4 linked regions of the Homo sapiens genome follow. The protein of the gene in region 1 purifies or fractionates together with the protein of each later gene. This does not show direct contact. Each region holds a gene or a part of one and is shown on either strand. Other genes may lie near its edges. The genes, in order: PRMT8, HNRNPU, HNRNPUL2 and CHTOP.

Region 1 (7,804 bases):
GTCCTCATGTTTGGAACTTGGGTACCTAGCTTTCCTGGTACAGAGCCGGTGCTTGACAAAGAGGTGTGGAATTCAGAACTAGGACCACTACCACGCTCCCCACCACCCACTGACACACGTGGAGGCGTGCTCCTGCCGCTCTCATCTACCATAAATGCAGGCAAGTCCACAACACCCCACTTTTGGAAGTGCTGCTCTAGTCCTGGCTTATTCCAAAAACAGCCAGTTCCTGGAGGGAAACCAAGTGATTGTCACGCTGCCTGGATGCCTCCGCTAGGCACGTTTGACCAAGTCTGGGTTCTACCCCTTCTCCAGGGAAGTTGCTAAGAACCGATCCGCCAACCTGGCTCACACCCCTCCAAGGAGCCCCAGCTGGGTCTGTCCCTCCCCGCACCGCCTTGGTGCCCCGCACGCGACGTGGTTTTTTGTTTGTTTGTTTTGTTGTTGTTCGCAGGAGCCCGGCCGCCCCTACTGCTGTTTTCATTGATGCCTTCAGCAGAGCTGGCATGTGCAACTGCTGAGAAGGGGGAGCGCGGAGCGGCGGGGGAAGCAAGTAAAAATAGACTGGCGCGCGGCGCTCTGCCTGCTCCGGACGCCTTTAACCCTCGCCGAGGCTGGGAGAGCGCAGCAGCCGCCGCTGCACACTGCGGAACCTGGCAGGGGTCTGCACCCAGACCCCGCGCGGCAGCGGGGGTAGGAGGCAAAGGGAACCGCAAAAACTTTTTCTTAGAAAAATGAGCCGGGGGTGGGGTGAGGTGGAAATGCAGGGAGGAAGCGCCTTCTCGCTTCCAGGGCTCCAGCCACCTGGCAGAGACCGCTACGTGCCCGCTCGCTCCACACTTCACAGAAGCGCGGCCTTGAAGCCCTGGGCTATTTTTAGAAACCCTTTCGGCGGGTGGGCGATCAGAGGGCGGAGGGTGAGGGGAATGGTAAGGATGGCTTTCTGCTGGGAGGCTAGCCGCCTCGCACTACACATCATTCCGAATGTCTGCTCTCAGGTGGGGGCTGGGGAAGAGGAAGTGGTGAGGGGACGGCGGGCACGCAGGCTTTGCCCTAACTCAAGGAGACAGCATTCGCTACTGAATGCCCCGCTGCGTTCAAGTCCCGGAGCGTGTTTGTTTTGAAATTGACAATTGTCAGATGCATGCTGCTTCTAGTCTCTCAGAGAAGGGGGATTTATAAAGCTTTGCTGCCTACGCCGTGGGGTAGGGGTTTTAGCGCAGAGTTAAGAACTCGAGGGAAGAAGACCAGGAAGGGTCTCTCTACCTTTTTGCATTCCGGCAAGACAGAGGGACAATCCCCGCGCCACACCCCCATCCCCGCCCCCCGCTGCATATGGGTAACCATATGTGAAATGTGCGGCAGCCCCACCAGACACCCAGCTATTAATAGAGCCTGGGAGTTTGCTCTCTGTGTCTTTTTCCTGCCACTGAGTAAGGGATGATCTTCACACACATGCCCCACTCCGCCCCCATCTCGGCGCACCGTTTCTCCAGGAAGGTAAGGGGGCTGCCCACGCTGATCCCCTTCGTGACTACAGGTGCCCAGAGCCTACGGAATAGTCCGGTTGTTGTAATGACAGCGGGGTCAGAGGGAGGCGAGGGATCACAGCCTCGAGTCTCGGGACGCAAAGCCCAGCAGGGCTCTCTGCGGCTCAGGGCCAGCTGGAGAGTAGAGAAAAAGGCTGCCGAAGGCGGGGGCCGAGAACACAATTTGCGGAGCTAGAGCGACCTCCTCAAAAGCCCTTGCGGGACGGGTGGCTGCAGACCCATTTCTCACTGCAGCCGGCGGCGCGCAGCCCCCACAGTCCGCGCAGGCTCGGCTGCTGCAGGGGCGGACGCTGTCCCTGGTGCTGAAGGTGGCCGCGGCCCGTGTGCCCTGCCGGGTTTAGCTACCCAGAGGCGGCTCTGATATCTGAGGATTGCAGACTTCTCTCTGGCCCAGATCTGGGCCGGAGGGTCTGTAGGAGGTGCCCGAGTCCTCCTGCCGGCTCGGCCCCCGCGGCCGGGGGCTCTCCGCGCGGCTGCGGGGACGGAGAGCTCGGGAACCGACTCGAGCTTGAAGGGTAAAGCTGAGGCAGCGGCAGGAGACGGTCAAGGCACTGCAGGGGGCAGACCTGGCCCCAGGATTACCCACCCCAGCTCTGCACAAAGCCGGGACCCGGGAGCCCTCACGGAGCCCAGAGGAGAGGGCAGGGGAGCGCGGCTGCCCGGGGTTTGGGACTTGGGGGCGGGAGAAGGGAGCAGCGGGTGGCAGGAGAGGGTGATGGGGTGAGAGTGACTGTTTTGCATTTTCAAGAGGGAGGGGACCTGAGACATGAACTTCCCCCCCACCCCCCACCAACACACACACACACACACACACACACACACACACACACACACACACACACACACACAGGAGGAGGCCGGCAGAAGCGAGCGGGATGAAACTGGGGAAAGTTTGGCACTCGGCGCTGAGCGGCGGCGGCGGCGCGGTGGTCCGGGTGGGCGGCGGGGTCTCCGAGAGCCCCTGCTCGCTCGCCTCCTTACCTCGGTGCTCTCGGCCGCGTTCTCCGCCATTTTCCTCCTCAGGAGCAGGCAGCGGGAGGAGTGTTTCATGCCCATAAGAGCCGGCAAGGGTTTGGTGATACCGAGATAGTAGAGGAGGAGAGAGAGCTGGTGTCGCTTTAAAAGAGAGAGCGAGAGGATGGGAGAAAAAAAAAAATCCAACCCAGCCCCTCAGCTGGAGCGTCGGCCGGCACAGTCAGCCACAGCGGAGTCTGTTCTGCAGTCTCCACTTTCTTTTATTTTCCTCCCTTCTCATCTGCTCCGGATTCCTTCACACGGTTTCAAGTTCTTCTCGTGCCCCCGACCCCCTCCCCGCCCCTCTCCACCCGCGCTGCGGGCTAAGCTCGAGGGAAGCAGCCCCGAAGCCTCCGCGGCGGCGGCGGCGGCGGTCGCGGATCCTCTCCAGGCTGCTCGCAAAGTCCGGCCGGCCGGAGGCAGCCGCCAACTCCTCTCAACTTCTGCCGATCCGCTGGGCGAAGCAACACGCTTCCTGCGCGTCTCTCCTAGGGGCTGAGCCGGGTGAGTGGGGGCGGGGTAGGAGGTTCGCTGGAGCCGGCGGCGGCTGGGCGCAGACCGAGGGCCCCCAGCGCCCCCGGGCCCGCCCCCTCCCCTAGTCTCCGAGGGTCTCGGCCGCCTCCACTCCCTGGCGCTGCACACAACTTACGTGGAGGCCAGGCCCGCGCGGGGGGCCCAGAGAAAGCCGGCGCCGGGCGAGGCTCTTGCAGGTTCTCAGACCCGGTGCGCGTGCTCCCACCTAGGGCGAGGTCCGGGCGAGACCGGGCCACAGTTAACTCGCACCCTCCCCACCCCGGCCCACCCCAGCTCTCCCGCTCCTCTGCCAGTTCCTGGATCCTTCCTCGGCGAATTACGATTTGGGGAACGAAGGGGTGGGTGTCTGGATGGGGGAGGGTCCTTAACTCCTTCAACTCTAGGGGTAAGTGTGGTGTCATTCTTTATCCTTTTCTCTCTCTCTCTCTCTCTCTCTCTCTCTCTCTCTCTCTCTCTCTTTGTACCCAAAGCCCTTGGGACTCCAAGCCCCTTTCAGGCTGAGAGGGAGGGGCAAAGGTGGCGGCCAGAGTGGCTTGGGAAAGAGGGTGGGAGAAAGTCAAATGCGAGACTGCAGTGCCCCCCCCCCCACTCCAGTCTTCCCTGGCAGCCCCCTGCCCACGCATTTCTCTTCTCCCTCCTCACCCTTCCCCCACCATCGCCAGATTTTGAAGTCCCTTTTATGGGAGAGAGGGAGGATGTCACGTACCCGTCAGGATTCTCTTGATCCTTTTTTAAGGGAGTTTGGGCGGCAGCAGGGGGTGTGAATTTTTATACAATGCATTCCTGTCTTCACTTTGAGAGCTTCTTTTTCTCTGTTTTACTGGCCATCTGTCGGGCAGTGGGAGATAGAACAAAAGCGGGGGACCCCATTCTGCCTCTCCCTTTGCAACAGGACACTCAGGCTGACTCCTTAAAACAGCTGTACTTTTAAGCTTTCAACCTACGAGTCAAGGACTGAGACCTATAAGATGCTCCCTGAGCACCCGGCTGTCTTCACTTCATCTCTGTACTTGTTTGGGGAGGTCCCTCCCAAATGCCCTATTTGCTTTTTATCATCACCTTCGATAACTGGGAAGTGTGAGCCTGACTGTCCTCAACTAACCCCAGAGTCCATTGAAGAAAAGGTCTAGAATCATTCTCAGTAGGAAACATGCCTCCATCATCTGGTCCTCGGGCAAAGAGAGGATACATTGCACTAAGTAGAGGTGAGAAGTGAGGGATAGAGACAGGAGAGGATGAAGAATGAGAAGGATGAAAATGTAGCAAGAGGCTTGAGTGTGTGTGTGTGTGTGTGCGCGCGTGTGTGTGTGTGTGTGTGTGTGTGTGAAAACTTGAATAAAAAGATGACCTTAACCTCCTTAACCTTTTCCCTTCTCAGAACACAGACCTGGGTTAGAGTTGGGGGTGAGTGAGCAGAATCCTTGACAACACCCAGTCGTTCCTCCCGTTCTGTCAACATGCAGAAAGTGGTAGGAAAATAAATGTGAATCTGGAGAATGACTTTTATCCTATTGAATTCCCTTTTCTCTAGGCATCTTCTCAGAGACAAAAGATTCTGAGAGACATCTAATTCCCTACCAAAAGTGTCTCAGTGTTTGTGCAATCAAAGGAAATCAGAAAAGAAATGATCCTCACCGCTCTGTGGTCCAATCCTCTCATTTTACAAATAAGGACCCCAAGATTGGAGAGAGGAGGACATTTGCCCATGGTCCATCAGCAAGCAGAGGACCCAGCTCCCCAGCCTCCTGACTTTCAGTCCGACACTCTGCCCCCACCCAACACTGCTTCTGCTTGTGCATGCCTTCTGTGACTAACCAGGGAGGAGGGGAGCTGAAACAAGCTCCCACCGAAATAGGCTGCTGCCTGTGCGTGATTATGTTGCTATGAGAACCTCAGTGGGTGTGTTTCCTCCTTTCGCTGTTGAAATCTTTTGCTTTGCTTGGCTTCTCCCCAAGCACAGACACGTCTCCCTTTGGAATGGGGAGTGGAGAGGCTGAGATGGAGAGCTATATTTTCATGGCAAGAGTTTTCTGTCCCAACCCATCCAACCCAGAGCCAGCCTGGGGCTGTGAGTGAGGAGCCTATGCCACTAGGGTGGTTCCATAAAGGCTGGAGTACAGGAGTGAACTGTTTTGAAAGTGGATACTCTAGCCCCCTGTTGAGCTGTCTTAGAACAAAGAGGTGCTGTTCCTGCTATGTAACCACCTAAGAACAAATTCACAAGCAAGCTAATTATTACTTTAAGAGACGAAGTTTGGGGTGATTTGTTATACACCAAGAGATGACCTGAACATTCACATCTTATGATTGTGAAAAGTGCCTAGCACATAGTAGGTACTTTGTAGAACTATTTTCTCAGCATCCCTACCATTCCTGTGAATTCAGTCTTTCTCTATCTCTTTTGCAAAAATATATTAGCATAGTCTTTCACCAGGTTAATTAGTTTAGTCATCCCACAAATAATTTACTAGGCATCTCTTAAATGCCCAGCTCATTAATAGGCACTAGCCTTAACAAGAGGCAACAAAACATATTGAATTGACCATTGATGAGCTCTTAATGTAGTCATGTTGGATGCTTTTACAGGTACAGATCTTCTGTAGAACTCTTAAGGAGATTTTCATGGGAGGCAAGAAAACATGTGGGATGATAAGGGGTTCAGAGAGTTCACTAGTGTGTGAGTCAAATGGGTAGTTTGAAACAATAGACCCTACCAGGTAAAGAGGTTCTGAAGACGCATTTTATTTATGTAATTTTTCTTATACTAGATCTTCAACACAACAAAAGTAGAGTGCTTAGAACAATGCCTATCTCATGGCAAGTGCACAAATATTATGTCAACATTCGCTAGGCCCTGTCCTAGGCACATGAGTTAAATTTTATAGAACACTTGCTAAGTCTTATAGAACACTTACTATATGCCAGAGATTATTCTTGACCTACCTGTGTTCTCATGTAGCCCGTTCAACAGCTTTTTGAGGTAGATACAATTATCCCCATATAACAGATGAGAAAACAAAAACACAAGGAATTGCCCAAGTGGTAGAGGCAAGATTCAAATCTAAGATACCTGATTCCATAGCATAAACCTCAAGAAGTTGACCAGGTTCAGGGAGCAAGACAGTGGTTCTCAACCTTGGCTATACAGTGGAATCATCTGGAGAGCTTTAAAAATACCAGTGCTTTAGTTCTACCCCCAGAGAGTATGATTTAGTGAGGTTTGGGCATCAGGATTCTTTAAGCCTCTAATTCTAAGGGACAGTGATGATTGGAGGACAACTGGACAAGAATATCTGGAGACAAAAACACCTGCAGAGGAAGAAGATCCCTAAGTTACAGAAGATCCAAAACAAGAACCCCACACTGTAAGGAGGTCTATCTCTAACTCACAGGTTCTTGAGAGGCCTGGACTGGAGGAAAGCTGTGTTGATGGTTGGGATGAGACCCTTGGGGAGGGTTACAATTACAAAGGTTATCCAGCTTTGTGAGATGCTGCAGAAGAAGTGAGTTTCCTATTACTGGAAAGGCTCAGTTAGATTAATTGTTGGCGTAAATGATGTAGAGGCCCCACAAACGCCAGAAGGTTGAGCAAGCCCTCTGAGGTTCCACCTGCCTTGTGCTGGGACTCTGTAATTCTGTCTCCTGTCAACTCTGAGCCCATGCTGGAACCCCAGAAGGTGAAGACTGTACCATACTTCATCTCCAGGGGCCAACCAACACTTCCTTTTGCTGCTGCCCAAAATCCCAGGCCCCTAGAATCAGGAAGCAGCATTTTAACTGCGGACCATGCTGCCTGGGAAATCTCAGGCTCTAGCTTGTTCCAATGGTCGTTGCTGCTGAAAGGGGCGACATATTATGTGGTTTTCTCCTCCTCCTCCCAGGGGACCTCACACATGGCCAGGGTTCACATATGGCCACAGCACACTGCAGTGAATCCACGACTCCTCGAGAATCAGGCCAGAGCCATGATCCATCACCACCTCATGGCAGCTACCCCAGCAGTGTTCTTAGTGTCTTCTGGGCCAGATGGGAGCCAAGCCAAGGCTGCAGCAGCCAGCTACCTGGCTGAGCCTCCAGGCAGCCCCACACCTGGGCCGTTCTCCTACACAAAAGCCTCTGTGGTCCTATTCCTCCCTAACCCAAGGCCCAATATTTTTAAACTGCATTCCAAAGAACAACTCGCTGAGTGCCACCAATACCTGCAAAGCAATATGAGGTGGGATTTTTCTTTTGCCATTAAAACCAGAATGTTATTTCTTCCTTGCTCTGATAATGTCTGATTAAATCAATTCACTGCGGTTTTGTGCTGGATATGATACTATTTGCTTTAACAATATCTGGGAGGCATTTTCTTAGTATAATACTTCTGCATTTATAGCTTAATCCTGCTGTTTTATTCTAAAAAGTTGAATACTCTTGTTACCTACCTTTCTCTAAGGATGAGAAAGACCCAAAAGATTCTGTTGTGCTGCCACAACAGAATTAGCTTTTTCTACTGGGTGGACGTTGTATACTCTACTCCTTTCCTCCTTTTTAAATCTTTCATTAAGGCTCACCTTTTTATGGGAAATCTCTCTGGAATCCCTGAAAGCCAACTGGAAGCCATTCAGTCTTTCCAGTGCAATAACTTAATACATATTTTTTTCTGTTAACTTTATATGACTATGGGCCAAGCAAGTGCTAAGTATTCTGGACTAAAAGGTGAA
Region 2 (4,790 bases), on another chromosome or scaffold:
TCTACTACATAGGTGTTATATTTTCTGAATAATTCTAGGTTAACATTATGAATATCCATTATGAATATCCATTATGAATAACCCATCTATCTATGTCCAATCTACTATCCCTTAAAACTATTATTAAAGACTCCTGGGGCAACTAATGAAAATTACTTCAATCATTTATATTTTTAGTCAATTGGTTAGGATGTGAAAGCATAGTCCTGCTCAATAATGTAAGCATATCATCTATTTCCCACCTAACCTCTTTTCTGAGACTGTGCTATTTCTGCATGACTTGAGATTGACATAAGTGTGACGCCAAATAAACTAGCACACATATTAAGCTAAACATAATGAAAACTAAATATTAAGATGAATTGTTTCTGTTCAATTTCAAAAATATACCCTTGGGGACCCCTGGTTTTTCATCTACTCCAACACACTCAAGAGATATATACTACATTAGTAGTATAGCTCACTTCCAAATTCTCAAGGGCTTATTCTAATTAACAAGTTTAGTAACAAAGGTTAGTAAGACAAAGGTCACTCCAACATGAGTTAGCTGGACAAAGTACTTTTAATGCTTATTTTACAAATATGTACCTGTGGTGCTAATACTAGGCAAAGAAAACAGGACGATTCAAGAGCAGCCTATGTAACTACCAACTCAAGCACTAACACTAGCTAGATCACCTTCATGCTTTAAAATTTAAAGTTATGGAGTAGCTGTGCCCACACCCCCCCCCAAAAAAAAGCTTTAATAAAGGCACTGCAGCGTTAACTAAGTTTTAGGGTAAATTTAGGCAATTAACAATTCGAAGAGACTTGTGGTTTATGTATTAGTAATTCAAATTACTGTTTTAGAGATCTCAGGTAGTTAACCAATTCTTGCTCAAAGCACTAATGTTCAGTCCCTCACCATTTATGCTGGGTATGAGTCCCAATGCATGGGTATTGCAACCTATTGTCAGGCCTTAACATGTATGTGTTTGCTTTTATTATTACTAAAATGTTAAAACTTAAACCCAATTATTCACCAAACTCTGAACACCTCAACCTCAGAGCTCCAGAATTAGGAATGAATGACAAAGTTTAGACTCTAATCATTTTAAGAATGTTAGGTGGGAAGAAATGGCTTCAGATGCAGTATTGTGTTCATCTTTCCAGGGGAACATCTCAAATGGGTATTCTGAAGCAGGTTGAGAAGTAGATAAAATTCTCTGCTACAAGTTCCATCCACTTTTTTTTTTTCAAGAGACCAGGTCTCACTATGTTGCCCAGGATGGTCTCAAACTCCTGAGCTCAAGTGATCCTCCCGCCTTGGCCTCCCAAAGTGCTAGGATTACAGGCGTGAGCCACCACACCCAGCCAAGTTCCATCCACTTTTGAAAACAAGACATTTATGTATAGGAAGAGAATTATGGAAACACTTTGTAAAACATCCATTTATTATATCCAATGCTAAACACTACCACTTGGACTCTAAGATATGTTTATGCCTCTCTGTTTATTCTAGTTTTTTAAAAATCAAATATACAAGATCTACAATTATTTATATCCAAGATGTCTACACCACTGCCTAAGAAGCTATTAAAATATTTGTATTTGTGCAATGGAACCCATTATTCACATGGTCCTAGAATAAAAAGTCAATTTATATTGTGAATAAATTTATCAAAAAACATGTCATCCAATTCCCACAAATGAGACATTTTAAATACAGAATACACTCTGTTCATGAATATAAAATCCCCAGGTGAAAGTCCCTTAAAACACTATTATGGTTATGTTTCCTAGAATAATTTTATAACTTTTTCAGAGAATTCCTTTAAACTTGTTAAAATACCTTGTTGCTAGTGCTCAGAACATCTAGGTTCAGTCTTTATTTTTAAGACAGTATCTATCCTAGGCAAATGAGAGCTTGTTTTTATGTATTTAAGAGTTTCCTCTTGTCATTTCAATGTCAAATTGATTTGACTCAATTTCATGATTTCATCTCGCTCAAGGCCATCAACCGGTCAGAGCCAGAGCCCTTCAAAGGCTGTATGTGAGTATATGAGGGAAAACTTTCCACATAATTTTACATCATTTCTATCTCATAGCAGTTTTAGTTTTCTCATAGCTATCTCATAGCAGTTTTAGTTTTCTCAAATTCTATGCTGTTTTTGTACTACTGCAGCTGACCAATCCAAAGCCAGTTTACACTCAGCATGTGTTATTCTACTTTAAAATATAACCTTAGTGAAAGCACCCTTCAAATCAACAGCAATCTCACAGTGAGTTTCCTCTGGGTAGTCAGGATTTGTCCAGAACTACATCCTTTTCAGATGTTCAGAGTTTTGCTTGCCATTAGGGAGGCAAGGGAAGGATGAGCAATAAATCAGGTTTCTCGTTCGTATCTTACTTCTTACCTAATTTTCTCCCTGTTGCTTATTTGGTACATTCCCTTCTCTGAATTCCTTAAACACTTTATAAGGTTATTTCTGCCATACAAGTGTAGACAATTGTATTAATTCTAGTCTTGACTAAAGATTTTAACATTTTTCTGGGTGCCATTTTTATCTATTCTCTCTCCCCCCAAATTCTCTGGGCTAAACAGGCATGATAGTCTACCTAGTGTTACTTGACCATTACTTTCCCACTGCAATTATAAAATGAATTCCTTAATAAGCAATTTTAAACTAGAAGATATATCCAAAACTTTTTAAAGGCACAAAGGACAACTTTAGGACACAACACTGATTAGCATCAAAACCTGAAACTGTTCCTCTAGTAAGTCTATGCAATCCTAATAATGTATACTGAAGAGTAGTAGCTCAGGCCAGTGGTTCTTAGCATTACTTGCTAAAAAAGATAAAAATCCATGACACTATCTTCAACTGTTAAATATCTTATGTTAACTAAGGATTTGCCTGTTCCAAAAATGTCTCAACTGAACCTATACATCACCTAAACTCCAGCTTATAGCAAGAAAATTCCTTAGAAGTATGAATTCATATTTATGATCTGATTTTAAAGGGCTAAAACAAAATTCTAAGCAATCAGAAATATAGCAAACCTAAACTTACCAAAGCAACCTAAAAACACCAAGGAAACGCTAGACTGAAGTCAAATTTTAGTTCTACAGTTTGACTCCTGATTCCTCACTTCACATTGGTGAGGGGAAGATTAAAGTGTTCTGTGCAAACCCAATATAATTACAATTAGGGGATCTAATGTTATTACATAGCTACAGTCAAGTTAGCAGTGTTGTGTAGCAGTGACATCAATGACTGGCTTGCATGATGGCTTCTAAAAGCATCTGATCCCAGAGTTTCATGTATCATATATATGTATATAAAATAATCAGTTGAGGACAGCATTAGCATTCTGTAAAGATGATAAACTCAGTGTTAACTTCTCCCAGCCAGTACCTTTTCCCCTCATTAAATATGTTAAAAGTTGTCTGGGGGGGAGGGGAAGGGAAGAATTCAACTTTACTTCATAATTATGTATCAATTGTCAGTATACATTTAAGTTTTTAAAACCTAAATGTTCTATGCAGAGTAAAGAATAAGCTGTCCAGAAAGCACACACTTAATAAATTTCTCCTCTTGGGAGTTATATAAAGGGATTTTGAACCTTGATGGCGAGAATCCCAAAACAAGAGTAAAATGAATTCTTTTTATTGCAAACAAACGTCTAAATTAATTTCTCCACCCACTTTCTTTAGAAAGAAAAAGAAATCAGCAGGCTAAGGAGATACCCATTCAAGAACTGACATGATTAAAAATTAAGATATAAATGGGTGACTCACAATTTCATTAGCTTACAAAGATGGTGGAGTTAACTACTACAAGCACACTAGTTATACAGTATTTTGTGGGAGAAGGGCATACAGACATGGCTAACTTCATATAGATCCCATTAGACAACTGGATTTACAACAAGTTTTTTTAATAAGAAATGGGCAAAGCCAGCTTTCTTTTCAGAATCAAAATGCAGAACAAATGGAAAAATTATGGTATTAACCTTCACAAGTTTGAGCCTCCACAAATAATGCAACCAAGTTTTACATTTTTAACAGCCCTTCTACATACACTCCATCTTCTCTATCTTAGTTCCAAGTTTTAGTTTTCAATCCCAATTATACCAATTCCATTGTTATTTTAAGAAAAAACCTTCCCAGTTATTGTCAGAAACTATGATTTAGCTTACCCCCTCCACTACCCAGCAAACTACAGAGAGGATGGAGTGTAATATGAGCAGTACAGAGTCTTAATGCAATTCATGAGGACCACTTAGTCCTTACATGAATCTGGTTGCTAACATTTCTATTATATTGTGACAATGACTCCCGACTGTTATTCTCTGTGAGAAATGGGGGGAGTAAATTCTTAATAAAAGACACCAGGTACAAAGCAACATTTTACTTCTGTTGTGATAAAAAAAAAAAAAAGTCACATTTTACAGATAAAATGTAGAACCCTGAAATACTGACACATTCTCTTATCGTGCACAATGCTGAGGTTCTCTTACGATTCACTTTTAAACTGCAATTAAAAATGTACAAAAAAGAAAAGAAAAAAAATCAACCCACAAAGCTTCTAAAAAAGGAACCCGCAGGCACTTCCTCTTGTGGAATGTTTAAAAAGTTAGCCTACTAAAGAAAACAGTCGACTTCTTGTGAAGGTTTTGGAGAAATATGTATCAGTTCGTTTTATTTGGGTATTCAATAATATCCTTGGTGATAATGCTGACTCCATGGCTTCTGACCCCAGAATTGCTGTAAGAGAAAATTTTGTTTTTAAAGAAAAAACATCAAT
Region 3 (7,043 bases), on another chromosome or scaffold:
TGGGTTAAAGTTTCTCATCAGGACAGAAGCAGGTAACCAGAGGCTAAAAGTAACTGAGAAAGTTCTGGTGTTGGTCAGATAAGATGCTAAGAAATAACATTTTAAAAAGAGACTCAGAGATGGCCGGGCATGGTGGCTCACGCCTGTAATCCCAGCATTTTGGGAGGCCAAGGCAGGCGGACTGCTTGAGGTCAGGAGTTCGAGACCAGCCTGGCCAACATGGTGAAACCCTGTCTCTACTAAAAATACAACAATTAGCCAGGCATGGTGGCAGGTGCCTGTTATCCCAGCTACTCGGGAGGCTGAGTGCCACTGCACTCTGGCCTCGCTGACAGAAGAGAGACTCAATGAGAAACTGACCCAAGCCTAAAGGCATCTGCTCATCTATACAAGGAGAAGAGAAGACAAGAGTACAAGGGCTCTCATTTACCACCTGTCCGTGATAGGCCAGCACATCTGCCAGTCTCTGGACGTCAACTTCAGAAGCTGAGTCCCAGTGGAAATTCAGTTCAATGGGGCTCTCATGATTCTTAGATGAATCCAGTTGGCCCTCAATTTTATAAAACTGAGCTACATTTCTCTGAGTGCCTAAGTAAGAGTTATGGACTGGCATAGTTCATTCTCAGTAAACTCTGAGGATCTGGCTCATAGATATGCAAACCAGTTCCCATGCCTGGGGATTATCAGTATTTGAAGAGCAAGCAGTTGCTAGACTCGGTGGGATGTCAGGAACTAAAGGCAGCAATGGGAAAAAAAATCACGTTTTAAGGGAATAGGAGGATCAATCAAAATATTAATATTTCTTATGTAGACATTACTCTCTGTCTTATGTATTGCATTACAGACTTCAGCCAAATTAACAAACAAAACACAAACATAACGTGATACCAGAAATCAAGTTATACCAATGAGATCATTCACTCCAACTGCCATATTTTAATCTGAACCATAATAATCTCTCCCTGCGGCCAGGCGCAGTGGCACACACCTGTAATCCCAGCACTTTGGGAGGCCGAGGCGGGCAGATCACCTGAGGTCAGGAGTTCGAGACCAGCCTGACCAACATGGCGAAACCCTGTCTCTACTAAAAGTACAAAAATTAGCTGGGCGGGCACCTGTAATCCCAGCTACTCAAGAGGCTGAGGCAGGAGAATCGCTTGAACCCGGGAGGCGGAGGTTGCAGTGAGCCGAGATCGCGCCACTGTACTCCAACCTGGGCGACAAGGGCAAGACTCTGTCTTTAAAAAAAAAAAAAAAAAAAGCAGAATAAGAAATGTAGACAAACAGTAGATGTACCAGAAATATTTACTTAACAAATAACTGATTCACAGAAGCCTCTCCCTTGATCCTTTGAGTTTAAATTACCCTACGGTCACTTTTTTTTTTTTGAGACCGAGTCTTCTCACTCTGTTGTCCAGGCTGGAGTGCAGTGGCACAATCCCAGCTCACCGCAAACTCTGCCACCTAGGTTCAAGCAATTCTCTGCCTCAGCCTCCCGAGTAGCTGTGATTACAAGCGCCCACCACCATGCCCGACTAATTTTTTTTGTATTTTTAGTAGAGACAGGGTTTCACCATCTTGGCCAGGCTGGTTGTGAGCTCCTGACCTTGTAATCCACCCACCTCAACCTCCCAAAGTGCTGGGATTACAGGCGTCAGCCACCGCGCCTGGCTCACTATTTCCCTTTCTGTATCTTTTTCAAAACGAGCCAAGGCGGCTAGGCACAGCGGCGTATGCCTATAATCTAAGCACTTTAGGAGACCAAGGCGGGCAAATCACCTGAAGTCAGGAGTTCCAAGACCAGCCTGGGCAATATGGCGAAACCCCATCTCTACTAAAAATACAAAAATTAGCTAGGCATGGTGGCACATGCTTGTAATCTCAGCTACTTGGGAGGCTGAAGCAAGAGGATCACTTGAACCCAGGAGGTGGACGTTGCAGTGAGCTGAGATCACACCACTGCACTCCAGGCTGGGCAACAGGGTGAGACTCTGTCTCAAAACCAAACCAAAACAAACCAAGAAAACAATGAGTCAAAATTATTGCTTCTCTCTGTTCATTCATTTATCTACAAGTGCTCACGACCATTAAGTTCCTCTTCAGATTTACATTTTAGATGTAGAGTGTCACTCCAGTTGCTAAGAGACCTCAATAAGGTGTGCACTGACCAGGGATAAGATCTCTTTAACTTGTACAATTTTAGCCCACTGCTATGGTTTGAGTTATGTCCCACCAAAGTACAAGTGTTGAATACTTAATCCCCAATGAGCAGTATTGAGAGGGTGGGACTTTTAATGTGATTTGGTCATGAGGATTCCATCCTCATGAATAGATTAATGCCATTATTGTGAAAGTGGCTTTGTTATAAAAGCAAGTTCTCTCACATGTGCCCTCTTGCCTTTTGCCCTCCTGACATGGAATGATGCAGCAAGAAGGACCTCACCAGATGCTAATGCTATGCTCTTGGACTTCCTAGCCTCCAGAATGAGGGAAATAAACCTCTATTACTTACAAATTATGAAGTCTATGGTATTCTGTTATAGCAGCAGAAAATGGACTAAGACACCCACCTTTCATCTCCAGCATTATAGATTCAGGCACATCATCTCCCTCTACTTCCTTCCTCAACTCCAGCCTCTTCTTCCAATCTTCCTCATTAGGGACAACCACCACCACTTTCCGAGAGAAGGTCTTGAACAGCAATAGCTTCCGCCGTTGGCCAGAATTGTACACATTACACTAAGAACAGGAGGAATAACTGATGTTTAGGAAGAAAATTATCACTCAGATTTAACCAAAAGAATCAGTATCAGCTGGGCACGGTGGCTCACGCCTGTAATCCTAGCACTTTGGGAGGCCGAGGTGGGCAGATCATCTCAGGTCAGGAGTTCAAGACCAGCCTGGCCAACATGGTGAAACCTCATCTATACTAAAATACAAAAATTAACTCGGCATGATGGTGGGTGCTGTAATCCCAGCTATTTGGGAGGCTGAGACGGAAGAATCGCTTGAACCCAGGAGATGGTGGTTGCAGTGGGCTGAGATCACGCCACTGTACTCCAGCCTGGGTGGCGGCTGAGCAAGATTCCATCTCAAAAAAAAAAAAAAAAAAAAAAAAAAAAGGCCGGGCGTGACAGCTCACGCCTATAATCCTGTTATCCCAGCACTTTGGGAGGCTGAGGCAGGTAGATCATGAGGTCAGGAGATCAAGAGCATCCTGGCTAACACGATGAAACCCTGTCTCTACTAAAAATACAAAAAATTAGCCAGGCATGGTGGCGGGCACCTGTAGTCCCAGCTACTCGGGAGGCTGAGGCAGGAAAATAGCATGAACCTACGAGGCTGAGCTTGCAGTGAGCCGAGATAGCGCCACTGCACTCCAGCCTGGGCGACAGAGCGAGACTCGGTCTCAAAAAAAAAAAAAAAAAAAAAAAAGACTCAGTATCTTTGACAACTTAGACACGAGATAAAGGGTCAATACACATGATCTTCTTTAACTTTTCAAACTACATGACAGGTATTATCCTGTTTTGCTCATCAGGGAAACTGAGGTTCAGAAAGGATAAGGGACTTATCCAAGATCACAAACCAGAATGTGGTGGAGCCAGGAATTCAAATGAGTTCCAACTCTTTCCATTGTCTTTATTACATGTTTTATAGCCTGGGTCCATATATTTTCAAGTAAAAACACTAATTAGGGGTACCTCTGAGTTCAAAAAACATTGCAACCATAACACACAACCAGATGGTCATAATTAGGTAAGCTGACTCTGCTCCTTAATTCAGTCTCTCTTTATATACACATCCCACCTTGACTCTAGGCAATTTTATCAGATTAATACCTGATCAAGAATAAAGTTCCTCTTTGTCCGGGAAGCAATCTGGACCAGCTTACTAAGGCACTGGGAGGCTTGCTGAACTAAAAGGTCTCGGCTTTTGGGGTCCATCTCTGGCTCCTCGAGACCCTTCATCTGATTAGTTTGAGAGGAAGTGAAAAAAAAAAACAAAACACAAGTTATATTGCAAGTTAAAGCCCAAGAGTTATTGGTAAATGTCACCTCTTCAAATACTGAATCTATGATATCACTCTATTCCCATTCTTCAGTGCTGTGAATGTTGTCCATTTCCTGCAGTAGTCATTTCTATCTAGTCTTAACCTGGATGTATTTCAGATCTCATCTGCTTTCAGAAATTTGACAACACAGCAAAGAAAAAAAAAATCAATCCACCTAAAACGCATAGAGAAAAATCTCATTTCTCTATTTCTGGGACCCTTGTTCTCAGACACTTGAGACTAATTCTCCATTAAAGATAGGTTATAAGAGTCTCCAAATACTGTATCCGACAAATCCCCAACAGCAACTTACCCTCATTTGATTGAGCACAGTCTCAGCTCCCAGGACATTGTATCTTTTCTCAGGGTTTTCTTTTGCATATTTCAGTGCCCACTGGGTCTTTCCAGATCCGGGTAGTCCCACCATCAGAATCACCTGCAAAAAACAGAACCAGAAATATAATGAAAAATAAATGAGGGTCATGTTTATCAAAACCAATTTAAGAACATCCTCCCATTCCTGTTTGGTAACGCTCTGAGACCCTGGAGAGCATACGCACCCACCTCTGCAAAGCATACAACCTCAGTGTTCGTATACTGTTTGGCATACCTCACATTCCTCTATGGTCTTGGGAGGGACTGCAGTGCGTACACGCTCCTCAACAGGCACAGCATGAATGAACACAAACTCTTCTGGTGGTGGGAAGAAGGGCTCCTCCTTCTGACCGAAGTTTAATTCTACAACACAATTTTTGCAGAGGACATGGGGTAGAAGGGCCCGGTCTGCCAGGGAATCCTTGCTGATCCAGAATGCCACACCTAGGTCTTCTCCATTCTTGGAGAAGGAAAGTTCTACTTCTTCAGTCTCAAAATTCTACAATGACAAGGGACAAGAGCACTTATTGGCTGACGAGGCTTTGGGTTGATTAAACTTTACAATTTATTCTTTTTTCACACAGACTGCTGCACAAAGTAACTAAGCGAGCCACACACATCACATGCATAAAAGCCAGCAGTTGATGGGAAGCACAAGTGAATTCCCAGTGCCCTCTATCCGCTCCTTGTTATAACCCACAACTTTCAGGAGCACTTACAGCAAAGCAGCCAATAACATCATTCTCCCCAAAAGTCTGGCCAAATTCCTCAAATTGTCCATTTTCTGCCTTGAGTCCTCGTCCATCGAAACCGTAAGAGAATTCATCTTCACCTAGAACAGTCAACAAATTAGTTACCTACAACCGGACTTCCCATAGAGTAAGCAATATGGTAGTAAACACTAATGAGGAACTTAAAGAAATAACTTTACCAAGCTGTGGACGGGAAAAATCAACAGACCACCCAACTCGAAGGAGAGAGACCTCTGTGCAGCCTTCTTTCATTGGGAGATTCTGGGTTACCTGGCCAAGTCAGAAAGGGAACTATTAGATATTGTGACCAACTGAGTAGCAAACTCTGAGTTCGAAGGACAAGATTTTTATACAAACTGAAAACGACATTTACCTCAACTCAACATCAGAATAACAATCACTGAACTTAAAGCCACAGGGATCAATTTCTTGGTTACTGAAACTAAGGTTCTTGTTAAAGCACAGTGCTTTTACCTACCTGCACTAATAAAAGCCTGATTGGACAGAAGTCCAGTATACATAGGTAGTAGCTTAATGAATAAATGAACGGTCTTTTTAAAAAAATATTTCTTCCCCAGCCAGGTGCGGTAGCTCATGCCTGTAATCCCAGCACTTTGGGAGGCCAAGACGGGCGGATCACCTGAGGTCGGGAGTTCAAGACCAGCCCGACCAACATGGAGAAACCCCATCTCTACTAAGAATACAAAATTAGCCAGGTGTGGTGGCGCATGCCTGTAATCCCAGCTCCTCGGGAGGCTGAGGCAGGAGAATCGCTTCAACCCAGGAGGCAGAGGCTGTGGTGAGCCGAGATGGTGCCACTGGACTCCAGCCTGGGTAACAAGAGCGAAACTCCATCTCAAAAAAAAAGAGATAATAATCTTCTTTTCCCCCTCTAAGAACCGTAAGCATCCAGTAATAAATGAATGAATGAATGAATGGTCTTAATGAGCTACCTTTGCCTCAAAGCAGACTTTTCCCTTTGTCACTCCGTAAGTACTCCTTGCCCCAGACCAAAGGGTGGGGAACTTCTCTGAGAAAAGTGGCTGCCCTCCATAGCGGTCTTTGCTCACTTGAAAATGCAGATCCGAGGTATCTGTAAAGAAAGAAGCAATCAGTTTACTCCAATGTCCAATACTTGTAAGCCGCCAACAGAGCATAAGTATACCAGTTGTTGTAGTGGATACAAAGTCTCATAGAATTTATAGGCTATGAAGTTTTAATCTCCAAAATCACTTTTAGGAGATTAGTTAAAAACCACAGTCTGTCTGCCTTATACATACACGTGTCCAGGTTCACAAGAGTTTGATCCTCCTCCTCATCTTTTGCCTCTTCTTCAGGAGGCAGTGGAGACTTTGAGCTATATATGTAAGATAGAAAAGAAACACAATGTAAACAAAGCCCTCTTCTTTGAGGGGTGTGTGTGTATGACATTATGTCCATTTTAAACTGTCAGTGAATATCAAATCCCAGCAGACAGCTTTTTCCAATAAATGAGAAAGGGCAATAGGAGTTTCCATGGTAGATGCAATCTAAAACTCATGCCTATAAAAACCTATTCCATTTTGAATCCACCCTCCTTCCAGTCTCTCCAGTCAATACCAGGTATACCAAAATCAGAGCAGACACTCCCTTCAACGAAAGGGACTGTTTCCCTCACCGGCTGTGGTAAGCCTCCTCTCGGAATTCATAGTAAGCTCGGCCATGTTCATCCTTCTCATCCCGCTGTCTCTTTACCCCCCGCCGCTCACCATCTGAGCCTGCTGGTTTTGACTTTTCACTATCCTGGTCATCTCCTACAAAAACGAGGGAAAGAAAATCAGCAGTTTTCATACTGGAGTGTAGAATAAGCTCACAACTAATAG
Region 4 (2,784 bases), on another chromosome or scaffold:
TTATTTCTGCAGAGCTCAGAGGAAGTCAAATTCTTCACTTTCTGCTCAAAGCCACAGGCTCTCCAGAATTTTAACACAAGTAAGAAGAAAGAAACTCTCAACCATACAAGGGGTATATCAAGACATCATTAAAGTGGCTGGGTGCAGTGGGTCACGCCTGTAATCCCTGCACTTTGGGAGGCTGAAAGTGGGTCACGCCTGTAATCCCTGCATTTTGGGAGGCTGAAGCGGGTGGATCACCAAGTCAAGAGATCAAGACCATCCTGGCCAACATGGTGAAACCCCATCTCTACTAAAAATACAAAAATTAGCTGGGTGTGGTGGCACATGTCTGTAGTCACAGCCACCCGGGAGGCTGAGGCAGGAGAATCGCTTGAACCAGAGAGTTGGAGGTTGCAGAGCCAAGATCGCGCCACTGCACTCCAGCCTGGTGACAGGAGCGAGACTCGGTCACAAGAAAAAAAAAAAAAAACATCATTAAAGTAGCCATGGCATTTTGAGGCACCTCAAATAAAGAGAGTCCTGGGTGGATTTAAGCGAACAGTTTGTTATAATGAACCAGAAATACAAGATTCCACTGAAACTGAACAGTTGACAGAATATGGTTGAACTTAAACCTTCAAGGGAAACAAGGGCAAAACAAAGCTAATGAGTGGAAAAGTCCAAGATTAGTTTGGGATAAACATGAGGATATAATTGCATTTTAGCATGGCTATCTTCTGACCTCTTCCAGCAGTTCGTCTGCCATCATTCTCCCTTCTGACACACCTACCAAATCAAATGGCTTCTGATCCTCTATATTGCAGTATAAACCAACCCTATAGTACCCCTCTGGTCATGATACAAACCCAGAAGGAAAGTCTGTAAATCTCATACAAAGGTAGAAAGTGCAATTCAACCCAACACGCTGGTTATGGTATATGTGCTGTCAATGTACATGGTAGCAACTTGAATCAAACCAGAGCTGCTACCACATGTAAGCAACCTCTTATGCTGCCCTGTAGTGATGTCAATGTTCTCAGTTTACTAAATTATCAATGTGGAAGAACGCATTTTTGAGCTCCAGACCTTCTAAACATTTTAAACAGGCTATCGAAGAGGATGTAACAGAACCCTATTTCAGAAACCTAAGGATCAGGGAGGAAGGAACACTGACCGGTTTTTCTGGGATGTTTCTGTGGGGGCAACAGGGATGAACAAAAGAAATGTTAGCATGTCAGAGCATATGACAAGTGAGGGGAGACAGAGGTAGGAAGAGGGTGTTCTAGCCACAAGGCTAATGCATTTGTGTTCAAAGAGAAGTCTGGGCAAAGGAGGGGAAACCCCCCCTCCCCCCTAAAAAAACAAAAACAAAAAACCAAATCAAAGGACAAAAGGGTTTCATACAACACAGTATCAAAAAGTAAAAGGAACACACTAAATGCACAAGCTGGTGGCAAGTAAGTCCACAGCCTATTGTGATAGGTCCATCCAGCATCAATCAGATTTCTTCTCATCTGTTATCTCAAGGTTATTTACAGATGTGTTGACTAACAAGAGTCTCTCATGGGAGGATGGGCAGGCTTCAATCATTGGTTTCGGGATCTGTCTGCGCCATGTAGGCATCCAACTCAGCATCCAGGTGTCCTTTTGTTTTCGACATATATGCATCCAATTGGTTGTCCAGCTGCTCCTTGGTCAATACAGGGCGAGCAAGGGCACCTCTCCCTCGTCCACGGCCTCGGCCTCGGCCTCCAAAGCCCCCTCTTCCCCGACCTATCATACCCCGACCTGGCCCAAAGGGGAAAAAAAAAAAAAAAGAGACAGTTACAAGTAAGTTTAATAGGTGCTGTAGTAAATGCCCCTTAGAGCAGTGGGGCCTAGCTGAGAAAAGCTGAAGGGCAGGGCAAAGAGGAGAAATCTGGAAAAAAAGGAAACACAATGGGTAGAAAGCAACACATGGAAAGCACACATAATGAATCCTCTATCACATGATCATCTCTAAATGCTATTTTAACAAATTTTATTCTATCAATAAAGGAAAATAATTAACTGGCAACTATAATTTTAAAAAACCTTAATCAATCCTAAGATAAAATTACCTAACATTTGAGATTCACTAAGTTCATAATTAAAATACATGACAGATAACCCCATTTGGTAAGATAGGGAGGTGGTAACAAGAGCACAGAGCATCAGGGGTGTGAAGACAAGACAGTTTTCAAATTAAGTTTATTGGAGACCCTTCTGGAAAGTCATCTCACCTGTCCTTAAACTTATCAAGTCTAATGAGCTAGCTGACCTCATGTGTCAGGAGACTGAGTTTTTCTGACACAGGAACAATGTAGGGGAGATTTGAAAAAATATTTTGAGTTGTCCTAGCTATTTCTACCTTTAATTCTAGTTACCTTATGACAACTGACAATTGTGGTTATCTGAGAAGCAGTGTGAATTCAGTTAACAAAACAAACTCAGCTTTTTGAAAAGCTATTTTAGTCTCTCCCACCCTCGTGATGTCTCTCAGGATCCAAGTCAAGATAATTTGGAAACATGTTATTTCATCCTGAAACCCAAACTAGCTTGCACTTCACTCAGTAAGTATCATATAATGGGAGAGAAGAAAACAAGCCCTTGGTTATCAACTTTTCTTTCCTAACAGTTATTATTCCTTGGCAACTTCAAGGTCATAAGTTATGGAAGACCCAAGACACCTTTTAAGAGAACCAAAGCAAATATACACAGGGGCTTCAATAGTGTTTTTTTTCTGGACAGGTGTTGGGAGTTTTCCACTAAGCTCTAAACCAG

What was found.
Region 2: the proteins of PRMT8 (region 1) and HNRNPU purify together in Homo sapiens (affinity purification with mass spectrometry; 5 studies listed by BioGRID and IntAct, with this or other methods). This does not show direct contact.
Region 3: the proteins of PRMT8 (region 1) and HNRNPUL2 purify together in Homo sapiens (affinity purification with mass spectrometry; 4 studies listed by BioGRID and IntAct, with this or other methods). This does not show direct contact.
Region 4: the proteins of PRMT8 (region 1) and CHTOP purify together in Homo sapiens (affinity purification with mass spectrometry; 4 studies listed by BioGRID and IntAct, with this or other methods). This does not show direct contact.

The regions. Positions count from the first base shown.
Region 1 is NC_000012.12:3,486,428-3,494,231, reverse strand, and holds the start of PRMT8 (protein arginine N-methyltransferase 8), read right to left. Parts: upstream 3,030-7,804; 5' UTR 2,607-3,029; coding exon 2,532-2,606; intron 1,501-2,531; exon of another isoform or gene 1,413-1,500; intron 1-1,412. UniProt on the Homo sapiens protein: S-adenosyl-L-methionine-dependent and membrane-associated arginine methyltransferase that can both catalyze the formation of omega-N monomethylarginine (MMA) and asymmetrical dimethylarginine (aDMA) in proteins such as NIFK, myelin basic protein, histone H4, H2A and H2A/H2B dimer.
Region 2 is NC_000001.11:244,849,754-244,854,543, forward strand, and holds the end of HNRNPU (heterogeneous nuclear ribonucleoprotein U), read right to left. Parts: intron 4,751-4,790; coding exon 4,697-4,750; 3' UTR 544-4,696; downstream 1-543. UniProt on the Homo sapiens protein: DNA- and RNA-binding protein involved in several cellular processes such as nuclear chromatin organization, telomere-length regulation, transcription, mRNA alternative splicing and stability, Xist-mediated transcriptional silencing and mitotic cell progression.
Region 3 is NC_000011.10:62,717,453-62,724,495, forward strand, and holds part of HNRNPUL2 (heterogeneous nuclear ribonucleoprotein U-like protein 2), read right to left. Parts: intron 6,975-7,043; coding exon 6,839-6,974; intron 6,539-6,838; coding exon 6,462-6,538; intron 6,275-6,461; coding exon 6,135-6,274; intron 5,452-6,134; coding exon 5,361-5,451; intron 5,262-5,360; coding exon 5,149-5,261; intron 4,929-5,148; coding exon 4,665-4,928; intron 4,491-4,664; coding exon 4,368-4,490; intron 3,972-4,367; coding exon 3,843-3,971; intron 2,740-3,842; coding exon 2,571-2,739; intron 1-2,570.
Region 4 is NC_000001.11:153,644,050-153,646,833, reverse strand, and holds the end of CHTOP (chromatin target of PRMT1 protein), read right to left. Parts: intron 1,771-2,784; coding exon 1,565-1,770; 3' UTR 528-1,564; downstream 1-527. UniProt on the Homo sapiens protein: Plays an important role in the ligand-dependent activation of estrogen receptor target genes. May play a role in the silencing of fetal globin genes.